2 separate regions of the Homo sapiens genome follow, and region 1 is linked to region 2. Evidence: fine-mapped expression QTL. Tissue or cell type: whole blood. Region 2 holds a variant in brackets; the other region holds the start of a gene. All regions are shown on one strand. Distances are from middle to middle.

Region 1 (2,688 bases), 24 kb after region 2:
CACTTGCATCATACCACTTGCAAAGGACTTGAAAAATAGTCTATTATTTGAGCCTCACAGTGGCCCTGGAAGGCAACAGGGGAGGGATTCTAATGCCTATTTCATAGTCAGAGAAATTGAGTTTCAGAGGACTTTGATGACAGGCACAAGGCCCCCCCAACTAGTGACTGGGAGAGCCAGCGCTGACAAAGACTCTCCTTAATTCAACTTAATCAGGCTCTACTACACCCCTAGGCTTCGGCCTTTGGCTTCATGTCCATCTTTGCATTGCCCAGTTCAAGCAGGAATCCTGCTAAGTCATTTTATTGATAATCCACTCCTCTTGGTATGTGATCACCCTCAATATCTGATCAAATTCCTCATCTCCCACCATCCACAGGTGAGGTCTGATCACCCTGGCCTGTCTTCAGCAAGAATCCTGTCAGGTCGGTTTAGCCAGAATCCTTTTACCCTTGATGTTTCCTCTTAGTAATTTTCCATCCACTGACCCCCACTCTACTCCTTGGCCAGAAATCTTTACTGGTCTTTGGCTGTATTTGGAATTGAGCCCCTTTCTATACTGAGGTCTCTTTCTGCCGATTGCAATAGTCCTGATAGTATCTTTATCTACTGTCCAAATTTAGTTTTCTTTGACAGCACTCAAGCCCGGGGATTTCCCGTATTTTATTGCTATGAGCCTGCCCACACACTTTCATCCACACAGTCATTAAGACAACACCATATGCTGGAAAAAGCACAAAGTAACTTCAGTAATTCAGTGATTTGTTATGGCTTTAAAGCCAAAATTGTAGGCTGAAGAAATGAGATACATAGAAGCTATGTCCCCAATTCAAACATCTGCTCCTCCTCCCCACAGCACATATTTAATTCTTGTAGGAAGTTGAACAGAGCAAGCGTTGATTAATCTGAAATTGTGACATGCCCCCTTCATTAATGCCAATTGTGAAATATCAGGAAGCACTTTCCCCCAGCAAATAACCTAAGTACAGATTCTTCAATATTGCTCTTGCCAGCTGGTTTCAGTTGTTTCCACAAAGATTACAGATAACACTTTTTAAGGTTCTCTGAGCTGTTCTTACCATTTTTAGTCTTCTTCCAAAATGGAATGTAGAGGTCTGGTTGAAGAGAGCAGAGCATGAGAGGTGCCAAGATCAGCTTGAGATGGGCCCAATAGCATCAACTAAGAGAAAGAGAAGACATCAAAGTTTACATTTCAAAGACAGCACAATACTGTAGCTTAAAGACATGCTAGGATCATTGCTTTAAAATGCGTTTGAAACATCTATTTACAGTATTTACTTCCTCAAAGTTAGGTAGACTGGAGACATATTCCAGAAAACCATTTCTAACGTTACTGAAAGCCTAACTTTATCTTTGAAGAATTGACATTTTAGACTACCACATTTTTTATTTATATTCTAAAAAAAATTTTTGTGCATATGATTTCGGTTCCCTCTTCTCTCCTCCCCACTTCCTTATAACAGCACATACATCTACCTACTTAAATTATCTATATGTGTTCCAATGTTTAAAATACCTTTCTTGATGGCATGGAGTGATCCTATATCTGGAGTCTTCTGAGATGAAGTGATGGGAGGCAGGAAGTGTAGTCACAAAGACTACAGGCAGCCAGCCCTGGAGTTTCCAACTACAAAGATCAGGTCGGGGGATGGGGAGGAGCATGATTATTTAAGCCACCCCAGATATGGGCTTTGCAAAAGCACGGGGTTCCTCTTATTTCTATCACCACTATTGGGGCAACGTCTTGTCTAAATCCAAACAACTCTGTAGACCAAATTTCTTTCGTTTTTATAGCAGGGTTTCTCACCCTCAGCACTATTTACATTTTTGACCAGATAATTCTCTGTTGCACCATAGGATATTTGGTAGCACCCTTGCTCTATACCCACTAGATGCCAATAGCACTGCCCCCTTCCAGTTATGACAATCACAGATGTCTCCAGACATTGCAAATTATCCCCTAAGGGGCAAAAACACCCCGGGTTGAGAACCACTGTTCTATAGATATATTAGAGACATATCTAAATTTACCTTATTCTGTCTTAGACCCAGCTGGAAAGGATGCTGGTTTTTAAGCAGTGGCAAAGCTACCAGTTGGTTCACTCACTTTCCTCTAAAAAAGTTCAGCTGCATTTGCTTCTCAAAGTGTGGGCCCCAAGAGAATTGTTCCTTTCTTAACTGATTATTGGACATTTTGTAGATAGAGCCAAAATATGGTAGTTATGTTTAAAGTTCTTTAATCTACTTAGTCCACCTGGAGAGAATTTGGATGATGTAGAGTGTGGCACGGGGACTTCTGCAGATAATGATCAGGGTTAACATATACTGGGCTGAAAACTCAATGGTGCAATAGAGCAGCTCAAAAACCAGATACAGTAATAAGTGACATTTATTGAGGGTTTTTTATGAGCCAGACACTGTTTTAATGACTTTATATGTATTATCTCATTAAATACTAAAACTATATAAAATAGAGATCTTATTACCCATTTTTTACAAATACTGGAATTTATAACAGAAGAAATATTGGATTTGCCTCAAGTCACATAGCAAGTGATACCCACACAGGCAGTAAAAACCAAATGTCTCCTTATTAAACCACTCTGCTATGCAACGATATGTAAAAATCAATAGTTTTCTCATACATAAATAATTACTGATCCAAAT
Region 2 (2,688 bases):
TTTTCATTCTTGTACATTGCTTGACACTTGCTGTGGGTGTCTAGAGCCAAAAAGGAAACCGAGAGGGAGGGGGAGGCAAAAGAAGAAAGGAGGGAAAGAAGAAGAAGAAAAAATAAAAACCTGAAACAGTGTGAAACTGCCCTGTTGTGATTTCATTCTCACTGGCATGGGTGGCCCCTATGTCACCAGGGCCCTTTCCACACCATCTTATGAGTTTGGGACTTATTCTCTTTTTAACCCTCCTTCTTTTTTTTTTTTTTTTGGAGACCAAGTCTCACTCTCTCACCCAGGCTGGAGTGCAGTGGCTTGATCCTAGCTCACTGCAACCTCTGCCTCCCAGGTTCAAGCGATTCTCCTGCCTCAGCCTCCCGAGTAGCTGGGATTACAGGAGTGTGCCACCACGCCCAGCTAATTTTGTATATTTAGTAGAGATGGGGTTTCACCATGTTAGCCAGACTGATCAACCCTCCTTCTTCATAGCGTTGGTTGGCAGGTGGGTTGGTCTCTTGTTCGCCTTCAGTACATTGTTAACTTGGTAAAATGGATTAATTTTCTGTCTTGGTGTTGTCTGAAGCACATCTCTGTTTGAGTCTCCTCAATCATGTTCTTTGATCGTTTCCCTCCGACATAGCTATTGGACTTTGGAGGGTACAAATCATTCCCAATGTTTCTTAGGGTCAAGGGCTTCACCTTCCAGTAGATGCCAGGAGCAGGGTGTGCTATAACTAACTGTTTCTGGAGCACAGCGACCCAAAGCTCCAAGGAGGGATGTGCTCCCACTGTCTGTGACTAAGCCTTTCCCATCAACAGTGTTCTTGCTTACTGAGCATGTGCAGCAGAGGCGGAGGAACAATTCCAACCTCAACTCCACCCCCATGTTAAAATTGGGCCATAAATAAGTAGTAGGATGTGCAACCTGGTCCTCTTGTTCACCCGACTTAGGATGAGAAGGAGGAAGTAAATAAAAAGCATATCTCATGGGAGGGGGAAAGGCATTATAAATAAGAAGAGTGTGTGTCCTTGCTATCCCCATCACAGCTTCCTTGGAGATGGGCACAAGTTACTCACACTCTCAGGTCGCTACATCCCCTTGCATACTCTATATTCCTTGGCCACATGTAAGAGATGATCTGGACCTAAAAGAGTGTCCAGACAGATGGAGCTGGAAGTAGACCTGCAAATGGGGCCGAGAGATCCTGACTCAGGGTCAGGGCTACAATCAGACTCATCCTCTCTCTCCTCTACAAACTGCAGACACTTGTTTTGCCTTTTTCTCATCCATAACATTTGCCTTGCCAAGTGCCTCCCTTGGCTTGGATTCTAAAAATGCCAAGTCTTGCTAAGGTGTAGTATCTATCTGAAGAGAAAGGACACTTCCTGGCCAAGTCAAGGTTGAAAGGGGCTTGGACCAAGGCTTGATGGTGGAAGCGGAATTCATGGAGAATCTGGGAGTTCCTTCCGGGGTGGAGCCAACCAGAGGCCAGTCAGCAGAGAAGCCCCACGTTCAGAGCTTTGTGGGGACCGTCTGTGAACAGCTCCAGTCCTACAAAACTGCACTGAGGGCCCTCAGAAAGTTAGAAGAATGACATGTCAAGATTA[C/T]CAAAGAATTCAGATAAAAACCATCTGTTGGTGTGCTGTTATTTTCCTACAACAAACCACGGTGCTTAACCTCATGTCAAAATACTCTGTGGTTTCTGAGTTGCATTATTTTCAGTTTCCCTTCCTCTTGATCCATTTCAGAAGATGTTTAAATTGTCTTCAAGTGATTTTATGTGTATATGTGTTTTAATAGAAGACAATTTATAATGACCAAAAGCTGATTTTTTAATGCCATTATCCTTGTTCTCACAGAAGAAGAACGGAAACTATGAAACACAATAAAGCTTACAGAAGTTGTGAAATAGTTGGCTCCAGCAATTTAATTACCTCTCTATTTATTCCAGAGATTGATTTGGGAATTTGTGACCCTTATTGATTAAATGTACGTTGGAAATAATTCATATAGTGTGTACTCACAGGTAAAGTAAAGCCTTTGGCATTGCCACACGTGAGGAAAATACGACATCGCCAATCTAAGGCTTGAACACATGCACGCTGTTTTCCAAATGGCACAAACACCTTTGTAGATCACTTCTTCCATGAAATAAAGCAAATTGGTCAGGTTTCAATCTTTGAACTCATGAATTTATACCCAGCTGAAAGTACAGGCATCTTAAGAATGTCTTGGTTCTTTCTGTTGTTTTTGAATCTGATAGCTGAAGTTCAAAACTGAAGCTTTCTCAATGTGAAGGTCTATAAACTTTGGTTTCTTCTCCCATCCTCCAGCAAAAAATGAAAGGAATCCATATAATTGGCATTCAAATAATTGTCATCTCTGATAAAACTATAAATAAATACACACTCTTGGAGTCCTCCTTTAGGGTTTACCATCAAAACCATCTAACGTTGCTGTATCAAGTGTGCAGATACTTACAAATATATGGCATTAGTTAACAAAACAGTTTGAAAGATATTGGATGAGGAAATTTTACTTTGGATACAGTACTTTGCAGTGCAGATAAAAACATTTAAGCAGGTAAATTATCAAAGGTAGAGAATATCACTTTGTATAAAGGCAGATCATTTAAATATTTTTCTATTTGTAGGTGGACCATATGCATTTATGGTAAGGATGTGTCTTTCTTTCTT

The links. PIP is the estimated chance that this variant, and not a neighbour inherited with it, causes the effect.
Region 1: it holds the start of TLR7, and the variant in region 2 is fine-mapped to the expression of TLR7 in whole blood (TOPMed, PIP above 0.99). The same link has a PIP of 0.9 or more in blood mononuclear cells.

What each region holds. Positions count from the first base shown.
Region 1 is chrX:12,865,973-12,868,660 of GRCh38, reverse strand. TLR7 (toll like receptor 7) reads right to left here and starts at 1,589. Exons shown (of 3, transcript NM_016562.4): 1 at 1,538-1,589; 2 at 1,080-1,180. The coding sequence starts at 1,082. RefSeq lists enhancers at 542-661, 682-751.
Region 2 is chrX:12,889,575-12,892,262 of GRCh38, reverse strand. It overlaps TLR7 (toll like receptor 7), which reads right to left. Exons shown (of 3, transcript NM_016562.4): 3 at 1,902-2,688. Among named protein-coding and RNA genes, the nearest start is that of TLR8, 16 kb to the left of the region's middle. The variant C/T (reference allele first, on the strand shown) is at 1,600.